2 separate regions of the Homo sapiens genome follow, and region 1 is linked to region 2. The links come from fine-mapping of genetic effects on gene expression. A gene starts in region 2. The other region holds a variant in brackets. All regions are shown on one strand. Distances are from middle to middle. Region 1 has its middle 11 kb from the start of HS3ST6. Region 2 holds the start of MEIOB (meiosis specific with OB-fold).

What was found.
Region 1: its variant is fine-mapped to the expression of MEIOB in caudate (GTEx, PIP above 0.99).

Annotation. Positions count from the first base shown.
Region 1 is chr16:1,927,117-1,932,486 of GRCh38, forward strand. No RefSeq gene overlaps it. Among named protein-coding and RNA genes, the nearest start is that of HS3ST6, 11 kb to the left of the region's middle. The variant C/G (reference allele first, on the strand shown) is at 2,738.
Region 2 is chr16:1,869,769-1,875,138 of GRCh38, forward strand. MEIOB (meiosis specific with OB-fold) reads right to left here and starts at 2,396. Exons shown (of 14, transcript NM_001163560.3): 1 at 2,225-2,396.

The DNA of each region.
Region 1 (5,370 bases), 57 kb after region 2:
AGGACCCTGCATTCCCCAGACCGCCAACACATCCATGTAGATGTGGGGTACACATCTGGCACCCCTCCCAAGATTGTGCAACCCTGAAGGGGAGTACGGAGCAGGTGGTGTGAGTGGGTGAACATTTCTTCATCTGCTGCTGCCGTACGCAGCACCCCGAGGGCTCAGCATTTAAGAAACAGAATGAGGGCCAGACATGGTGGCTCACGCCTGTAATCCCAGCACTTTGGGAGACCGAACTACTGCGCCTGGCCCGAATCAACTAGGTTCTAAACCAGGTTATCACAGTACTGAAGGTGAGGAATGACTGAGCCTTGGGCTGGGGAGGTGGCATTGGTGATAGAGAAAAGGAGACACTTAAAATATATTTGGGGCTGAGTGTGGAGGCTCATGCCTGTAATCCCAGTACTTTGGGAGGCTGAGGCAGGCGGATCACCTAAGGTCAGGAGTTCAAGACCAGCCTGGTCAACATGGCGAACCCCATCTCTGATAAAAATACAAAAAAAAAAAAATTAGCTGGATGTAGTGGTGCATGCCTGTAGTCCCAGCTACTCGAGATGCTGAGGCAGAAGAATCACTTGAACCCGGGGGAGGCACAGGTTGCAGTGAGCCGAGATTGTGCCACTGTACTCCAGCCTGGGCAAAAGAGCAAGACTCCATCTCAAAAAAAAAAAAAAAAAAAAAAGACTGGGCATGGTGGCTCACGCCTGTAATCCCAGCACTTTGGGAGGCCAAGGCAGGCAGATCACGAGGTCAAGAGACCAAGACCATCCTGGCGAACATGGTGAAACCCCCTCTCTACTAAAAATACAAAAATTAGCCGGCGTGATGGCGCGCGCCTGTAATCCCAGCTACTCAGGAGGCTGAGGCAGGAGAATCGCTTGAATCTGGGAGGCGGAGGTTGCAGTGAGCCGAGATTGTGCCACTGCACTCCAGCCTGGGCGACAGAGCAAGACTCCATCTCAAAAAAAAAAAGAGAGAGAGAGAATGAGATGAAGGTGCTGTGGTTGATGGCTTTGAGGAGCTCCTTGACCTAGGATGGGTGAGGCCTGCAAGAGGGTAACAGGGGCCCAGTCTGCATGCACAGAGGAGGCCCACCCAGGCCCCTGCTGTGGGGGAAGGAGAGGACCACTGGGGCAGAGCCCCCAAGAAAAGCTTCTAGAAGGGTTGTGATGCGTGTGGAAGGACAAAACAGAAGAAGGAAAAACAAACTCTAGGAATGCAAGGATGTGTTTCTAGAGTGGGGTCTGGTTTGCCTGGAGGTGCAGGTGAAAGGGTTTGGGTTCAGGTGATGCGGGCAGTAACAACAACATAATTGACTGGGCTGAGGAGCTCACACCTATAATCCCAGCATTCTGGGAAGCCGAGGTGGGGGATCCCTTGAGCCCAGGAATTCAAGATCAGCCTGGGCAACAAAGCCAGAGCACGTCTCTACAAAAAGTTTTTTTAAAAAATTAGCCAGGCACAGTGGCTCATGCCTGTAATCCCAGCACTTTGGGAGACCAAAGCGGGAGTGTCACTTGAGCCCAGGCGTTCCAGACTAGCCTGGACAACATGGCAAAACCCTGTCTCTACTAAAAATACAAAAATTAGCGGGGCGTAGTAGCACACCTGTAGTCCTAGCTATTCGGGAGGTTGACCTGGGAGGATCGCTTGAGTCCAGGAATTCAAGGCTGCAGTGATCCATGGTCATGCCACTGCACTCCAGCCCAGGCAACAGAGAAACCCCCTTCTCAAGAAGAAACAACCAGGCCCGGCGCGGTAGCTCATGCCTGTAATCCCAGCACTTTGGGAGGCCCTGCTGGGCGGATCATGAGGTCAGGAGATCGAGACCATCCTGGCTAACACAGTGAAACCCCGGCTCTACCAAAAATACAAAAAAATTAGCCGGGCGCAGTGGTGGGCGCCTGTAGTCCCAGCTACTCGGGAGGCTGAGGCACGAGAATGGCGTGAACCCGGGAGGCGGAGCTTGCAGTGAGCCGAGATCGCGCCACTGCACTCCAGCCTGGGCGGCAGTGCCAGACTCCGTCTCAAAAAAAAAAAAAAAAAGAAACAACCCCAAACTGTAATTATGATAAACAACACCGATCTCATTTATGGAGTAGGAAATCAAGCTGGAGAGGTGGGGTCAGCCTAGGTCAGAGCAGGCAAGGACTGTGGGAACCTCTGAGGGAGGGACCTGGTCTGGTTATTATTTTGCAGAGAGGACTCTGGTTGGGGGAAGGCAGCCAGGAGCTGCCTGGGTTGTAGCGGGGAGAGGTGGGCGGAGGAAAGAGGCCTGGGATGTGGAACCCTAGGATCTAGCCCTGAGGGCGGGCCAGGTCCGGGCAGCCTGGGTCCCACGCAGCTGCCCTGAAGAAGGGGCTGGGGGCGTCCTGCCTCCACCCGCGCCCCCAACCACGCCTGCCGTTCCCACCGGCCGCGCCACCCCCGCCCCCGCCCCTGGCTCTGTCCTCCGGTGACCCTGGAAGGGGCACCCGTGGCTGCGACTGCACTCCCTGTAGCGGTCACTTCGTGAAGCCCGGCAAACCCCCTGCAGCTGCCCCTGGCACCCTCAGACGACCAGAGGCCTCGGCCTGGGTCCCCAGCACCGGCCCAAGGGCGGGCGTGGCCGAGGCGGTTTCTCTGCGCGGACGCTCGCTGCCTCCGCCGCAACCCCCGCGGCCACCCGGGGAACTGCAGCGCCGTCAGGCCCCCCGCCGCGCCTGCGCACGCAGACCACCCGGCCTGGCAGCAC[C/G]GAGCGAGCGTGCCCCCTGCTGGTCAGTCCTGCGCACGGTCCCGCGCCCGGGCCCGGGAGGCCGCCTCGAGGGCCGGGGCTTGCACGTGGCCTCGGCGCCTTCGCCGACCCTACCGGACGCCCCCTCCTCCCACCTGCCGACCCGTCCGCGGGTAGGAGCCTCCCGGGAGCTGCCCACGGCCCCCACCCCCACCAGGGGCCACAGCCCCACCAGGGCCAGGCTCTGCGCGGCACCTGCCACTGAGAGAGCGGAAAGCGGTGGTTGAGCAAGGGTCTGAAGTATGGTCTGTTCCCCCATACGGGCCGCAGACGCTTCCTGGTGGCTGCTCTGAGCCAGGCCTGGGCCCCGGCGAGGGATCACGGTGTCTCAGACAGAGTTCCTTTTTATTCCCCATCCCTCGCCCGAGGTGACGGCCCAGCCGTGCCCAGGCCTGCCCGCTGCCCCTGAACCCAACCCTTGAGGGGCAAGGCCGTGCCCTGGGGAGGAAGGGGCTGCCCCCTCAGAGTCTGCTGTTCCTCAAGGAAGACGCGGGGGCAGCCGCAAGGATGGGGTATCACCCAGCAGGAGCGGGAGGGTAAGGTGACTGATTCCACACCAGACGCTCCATTGCTGGAAACACCACCCCCTCCTCCGGTGACCTGGCATACAGACCTTGCCCACAGCCATCCCTCCCTGGACTCTCAATGTGAGGGGGCCTTGGGGTCCTGCGGTTCACCCGTCTCCCCACTCAAGCAGTCTGCTTGCCGGCACCCCCCCCACCTCCTGAGCCCACTTGCCCCCTCCCACCCCCACCTCCCTACCACATCTTTTTTTTTTTTTTTTTCCTGAGACGGAGATTTGCTCTTGTTGCCCAGGCTGGAGTACAATGGTGTCATCTCGGCTCACCACAACCTCCCTGAGCCTCAGCCTCCCAGGCTGAGCCTGAGCCTCCCAGGTTCAAGCGATTCTCCTGCCTCAGCCTCCCGAGTAGCTGGTGTAGGGAAAAGAAAGAGAGATCAGACTGTTACTGTGTCTATGTAGAAAGGGAAGACATAAGAGACTCCATTTGAAAAAGACCTGTACTTTAAATAATTGCTTTGCTGAGATGTTGTTAATTTGTAGCTTTGCCCCAGCCACTTTGACCCAACCACTTTGATCCAATCTGGAGCTCACAAAAACATGTGCTGTATGAAATCAAGGTTTAAGGGATGTAGGGCTGTGCAGGACGTGCCTTGTTAACAAAATGCTTACAAGCAGTATACTTGGTAAAAGTCATTGCCATTCTCCAGTCTCAATAAACCAGGGGCACAATGCACTGTGGAAAGCTGCAGGGACCTCTGCCCTTGAAAGCAGGGTATTGTCCAAGGTTTCTCCCCATGTGATAGTCTGAAATATGGCCTCGTGGTATGAGAAAGACCTGACCGTCCCCGAGCCCGACACCTGTAAAGGGTCTGTGCTGAGGTGGATTAGTCAAAGAGGAAAGCCTCTTGTAGTTGAGATAGAGGAAGGCCACTGTCTCCTGCCTGCCCCTGGGAACTGAATGTCTCGGTATAAAACCCAATTGTACATTTGTTCAGTTCTGAGATAGGAGAAAAACCACCCTATGGTGGGAGGTGAGACATGTTTGCAGTAATGCTGCCTTGTTATTCTTTACTCTGCTGAGATGTTTGGGTGGAGAGAAACATAAATCTGGCCTACGTGCACATCCAGGCATAGTACCTTCCCTTGAACTTAATTATGATATAGATTCTTTTGTTCACATGTTTTTTGCTGACCTTCTCCTTATGATCATCCTGCTCTCCTACTACATTCCTTTTTACTGAAATAACGAAAATAATAATCAATAAAAACTGAGGGAACTCAGAGACCGGTGCCAGTGCAGGTCCTTAGTATGCTGAGCGCCGGTCCCCTGGGCCCACTGTTGTTTCTCTATACTTTGTCTCTGTGTCTTATTTCTTTTCTCAGTCTCTCGTCCCACCCGACTGGAAATACCCACAGGTGTGGAGGGGCAGTCCTCCCCTTCAGCTGGGATTACAGGCATGGGTCACCACGCCCGGGTAATCCGGGTAATTCTGTATTTTAGTAGAGATGGGGTTTCTCCATGTTGGTCAGGCTGGTCTAGAACTCATAACCTCAGGTGATCCACCTGCCTCGGCCTCCCAAAGTGCTGGGATTACAGGCGTGAGCCACTGTGTCCGGCCCACCACCTTAACATGGATGTTTGGATGAGCCTGGGGCCCTGGGATGCAGGCAGGAGGCACTACTCCCCAGCCCCCACCAGGATCACCACCCCTGCACTGCTGTGGCTGAGATCCCCAGGCGCCAGCAGGCCTCCAGCCACCCAGCTACCGGCCTGAGCCTGGTAGACAGCCCTGGGGACAAAACCCTGCACACAGGGGCCCAGTTTGCAGGCGAAGGCCAGTCTGCTCTTGGGCCTGAGTCCACTCTCGGGGAAACACTGGCCCCAGGTGCAGAGCTGGGAGTGCTGGGAGAAGGCAGCACAGCCCAGGCCCCTGCCTGGCCCTGTGCCTGGGAAGCCTGCTGCCCATTCAGCAGCTCCCTCCCTGCCGCAGCAGAGCCGCCTTCCACAGGACCTGCCCACAGAGCCCTTCCCAGAGCCACTGCTCCTCCTGCAGGGAGAAGCAGAAAGGGA
Region 2 (5,370 bases):
ATTTAAATATATATTAGCATCAAGCTTACCTCAAAAAATACAGCAAAAATCTACGTAAACACCTCATATTGAGCATTTGATTATACTGTGTGAAGGGAAAGGTAGTGATTTTTTTTTTTTTGAGACGGAGTCTCGCTCTGTCGCCCAGGATGGAGTGCAGTGGCACGATCTCAGCTCACTGCAACCTCTACCTCCCAGGTTCAAGCGATTCTCCTGCCTCAGCCTCCCGAGTAGCTGGGACTACAGGCATGTGTCACCTCACCCAGCTAATTTTTTTGTATTTTTAGTAGAGATGGGGTTTCACTGTGTTAGCCAGGATGGTCTCGATCTCCTGACCTGATGATCCACCCGCATCAGCCTCCCAAAGTGCTGGGATTACAGGCGTGAGCCACTGAGCCCAGCCCGGGAAAATTATTGATTTTAAACACACCTCTACATAGTAAAACTACATGAGGGCAGAGGTGGCATCTTACGTATTTTTATGTATGTATTTCATAACTGAAAACCATAAATATCAGATGAACGAAATGGTGGTTTGTCCCTCAACATCATCACTCTAAAAGGTTCTATTGTAGAAAAATTGTAAGCTACACCAAACAGATTGACTTCACTTTATAATCCAGGGCCTCTTTAACTCTGGGAATGCCCACACCCACCCGCTCCAGTTCAAGGACGTGTCTCATGACACCTGAATTTCAGGCAGCCTGTGGAGTTAGTCAAATATGATTTTGAATTGCAACACCACTAGTTTGTAGTCGTGTGTTTTAACATTACTAAACATTAATTTCCTCATCCTTAAATTGTGGATAACATCCACCTGGCAGTGAAAAGTAGAAACAGTGTATACAAGATGCCTCGATGTTCACAGGCTCACAGTCAATGATGGCCCTGCTTGTCAATATTATCCAATGTACCAGTTTTTGTATTCAAGGCCTTTCAGTGCCAGAAGAAACATTTGGGAATTAAGCTGTGTCAAGTTTTTCATTCGTTCTTTGGCCTGGTCTGATGTGGCTCACAATGCAGTGTCACTATCTAAAACACTTGCCGAACTGTGACAAATTCATTCACTCATTCAACCATTCAACTAATATTTATTTACAGCCCAAAGTGCCAGACATGTGAGTCGAGAGGATGAGTCAGACATTTGACTCAGTGGCTGAATATTCTGTACAAACACAACTACCTACACACCAAGGGATTTCTCCACATTTTTACCCCTTAGCATCTCTTGGTGGGACATGGTATCCTATTATCTCTCTGAATTCCCTTATTTGTCTGCTACCGTTAGAGGTATATGGTAATAGACGTTAGTGTCTGCCCACAAAAAATATGACTTGCTTCTCTACCTGGTCACTTTAACAGATACAAAATTAACATGAACTAAAGAGCTCAATCTGAGAATTCAGAGATGACTTCATTCAACAACTACTGTCTCTTTTACCCTACAATTTTGTTTTGTTTTGTTTTTTGAGACAGAGTCTTGCTCTGTCGCCCAGGCTGGAGCGCAGTGGCGCAATCTCGGCTCACTACAAGCTCCGCCTCCCGGGTTCACGCCATTCTCCTGCCTCAGCCTCCCGAGTAGCTGGGACTACAGGCACTCGCCGCCACGCCTGGCTAATTTTTTGTATTTTTAGTAGAGACGGGGTTTCACCGTGTTAGCCAGGATGGTCTCGATCTCCTGACCTCGTGATCCACCCGCCTCGGCCTCCCAAAGTGCTGGGATTACAGGCTTGAGCCACCGCGCCCGGCCCTTTTTTTTTTTTTTTTTTTTTTTTTGACAGAGTCTTGCTCTGTTGCCCAGACCGGAGTGCAATGGTGCGATCTTGGTTCACTGCAACCTCCACCTCCCGGGTTCTAGCGAGTCTCCTGGTTCAGCCTCCACAGTAGCTGGGATTACAGAAGCCTGCTACCACACCTGGCTAATTTTTGTATTTTTTGTAGAGATGGGGTTGCACCTGAGGTGGGCAGATCGCGAGGTCAGGAATTTGAGACCAGCTTGGCCAACATGGTGAAACCCCGTCTATACTAAAAATACAAAAAAAATTAGCCAGGTATGGTGGCGCACGCCTCTAATCCCTGCTACTCGGGAGGCTGAGGCAGGGGAATCCTTGAACCAGGGAGGAGGAGCCGGGCCCTGACCCGCGCGGGCTCCCTTCCTCGGACGCCGCCCCACAGCTGGAGGCCTGGCCCGCGTCGCCACCTGGCCGTCCACGCCGCTGCTTACCCGAGGCTCGCCCGGCCGGCTGCTCCCCGGGCCTGCACAGCTGCCGCCGCGGCCTCGCGGACCTGGCCCGCCCGACCCCCGGGTCGCCCGCGCTTCGCGGCTTCTCCACAGGACGCTCGGGCCACAGCCTCGTGCAGGTGCGACGGCCGCGCGACCGTTAGCGCGAGGCCCCGCCCCGTCCTCAGCGACTCCGCCCCCACCGCTCACTGACTCCGCCCCCACCGCTCACTGGCTCCGCCCCCACCGCTCACTGGCTCCGCCCCCAACGCGCTCAGACTCAGCCCTCGGGGGAGGGGAGGGGAGCCCGGTTCCCGTTTCCTCCTTCTTGGGAGTTAGAGGGACAAGACAGCCGCAGGCGCGGGGAGGGGTCTCCGTGCGCTCTCACAGCCGCGTGTGGCTCTGTGGTCGCTGGATTCCAAAAGACGGTGCGCCGGAAAAAAATAAACATATCTCTCTATCTATAATATTATGAAGGGCGGGCGCGGTGGCTCACGCGTGTAATCCCAGCACTTTGGGAGGCAGAGACGGGCGGATCACCTGAGCTCAGGAGTTCAAGACCAGCCTGGCCAACATGGTGAAACCCCGTCTTTACTAAAAATACGAAAGAAATTAGCCAGGCGTGGTGGTGAGTGCCTGGTTGTCTTGTGGCGCCGCCCGCCCACCCGAGTAGTCCCAGCTACTCAGGAGGCTGAGGTATGAAAATCGCTTGAACCCGGGAGAGGTCGCTTGAACCCAGGAGAGGAAGGTTGCAGTGAGCCGAGACTGTACTACTGCACTCCAGCCTGGGCAACAGAGTGAGACTCTGTCTCCAAAAAAAAAAAAAAAGAAAAAATGAGCCAGGCACGACGATGCATGCCTGTAGTCCCAGCTACTGGGGAAGCTGAGGGGGGAGAATCGCTTGAGCCCAGGAGTTCAAGGCTGTGGTGAGCTATGATGGCGCTACTGCACTCCAGCCTGGGCAAGAGTAAGACCCTGTCTCTACAAAATTAATTAATTAATTAATTAATTAATATATCTACATCTAATGATAGATTTGGCATGTAGTACATCAAGAAAATACCCATAGATGGGCTGGGCGCGGTGGCTCACGCCTGTAATCCCAGCACTTTGGGAGGCCGAGGCGGGCGGATCACGAGGTCAGGAGATGGAGACCATCCTGACTAACAAGATGAAACCCCATCTCTACTAAAAATACAAAAAATTAGCCGGGCGTGGTGGCGGGTGCCTGTAGTCGCAGCTACTCCGGAGGCTGAGGCAGGAGAATGGCGTGAACCCGGGAGGCGGAGCTGGCAGTGAGCTGAGACCGCGCCACTGCACTCCAGCCTGGGTGACAGAGCGAGACTCCGTCTCAAAAGAAAAGAAAAAAGAAAAAGAAAGAAAAAACCCTAGATGTGTATATCTATGTATGAAAAATATATATATAATTAGATGTGCTAAGGATTGGACTTAGGTGAATCTGACAAAAATTTTCTCAGCTCTTCATGTTTTTAATTACTTCCATTTAGAAATCTTTTTAGTTTAATGACTTATACTAATTTTTGTTAACAGAGTACCAACCCAGGGCAAGTAAGATCCAAAAACTAAGTCCATTAAATTTGTCACCTACTACTGTCCACATGTAGCATTATTTAAGTTTCTCTTTAAAAAGAGAAGAACAACTTTGGTGCATATAACACACACATATTATAAAAGAAAAATACCACTGTAGAACCAAGTTTTATGTTATTATTAAAATACAGTTTTTCTTTTCCTCATTTTTTTTTAATTTCCCAAATAATACTGGGAAGCAAAATAAAGTACCTGCATTTCACCATTTCAAATATAATGGGAAGAGTTGGGTTTTTAAATCGTCCCTATTCCTTTCCAGTCTCTGCCTTTAAAAGAAGATATTTTTGGCCGGGGTTGGTAGCTCATGCCTGTAATCCCAGCACTTTGGGAGGCTGAGGAGGGCAGATTGCCTGAGCTCAGGCGTTCGAGGCCAGACTGGCCCAACGTGGTGAAACCCCATCTCTACTAAAAATACAAAAATTAGCCAGGCATGGTGGCGGGAGCCTGTAATCCCAGCTACTCGGGAGGCTGAGGCAGGAGAATCGCTTAAACCTGGGAGGCAAAGGTTGCAGTGAGCCAAGATTACGCCACTGCACTCCAGCCTGGGTGACAGATGGAGACTCCATCTCAAAAAAAAAAAAAAAAAAAAAACAAAAAAAAAAAACCTATCTTTATCTTTCCAAAAGAATAAACTAGTGGCCGGGGGCAGTGGCTCACGTCTGTAATCCCAGCACTTTGGGAGGCCAAGGTGGGCGGATTGCCTGAGCTCAGGAGTTGGCCACCAGCCTGGGCAACACGGTGAAACCCCATCTCTACTAAAACACAAAAAATTAGCCAGGCGTGGTGGCATGCGCCTTTAGTCCCAGCTACTCGGGAGGCTGAGGCAGGAGAATTGCTTGAACCCAGGAGGTGGAGGTTGCATTGAACCAAGATCGGGCCACTGCACTCCAGCCTGGGCAACAGAGAGAGACTCTGTCTCAAAAAAAAAAACACAAAATAACAAAATAAAATAAACTAGCATTTTAAGTCCATCTTAAAGGAGAGGAAAAAATATAAAAATAGTTTTCATGCATTTTTCATTTGAGCCTCAGTGAAGCAATAATATTCTAAAATTTTTTAAATTTTGTCACGTTTTAGTAAATTAATTTTTGCAGAAAGCTACATAAGGTTAAGCAAACAGTGTCAGCCTTGCCAGGACACAACAGGCTTCTCATAAGCCACGATGCTTCAAAATACAAGCCTAAAAGAGTGGAATTGCTTCACGCTCGTGAAATTAAGTCTCCCTTGTTGTGTACGGAATTTGTTTCTTCCATTTTTTATAGCAGTTCTGTGAAATTGGCTTGCTCTTAACAATAGGATTGACTTGTCAATATATTTTGGATGTACACGAACAGAAATAAGGACTAGAAATGCTAGCTTGCCCTTGCCGCTTGATGCAGAAGTCAAGGGTGAGCGAACAAGGGTCAGAGCTGAAATAGCTCACATGTCTGGCTAAAGAAACGGTAGTTGGCTACATGGTCAGCTCCCCAGAGCATGCCAGCTGTCAAAACATCTAGGAGCTGTCACAAAGGAGTGACAGGCAAAATATATAGTCATAA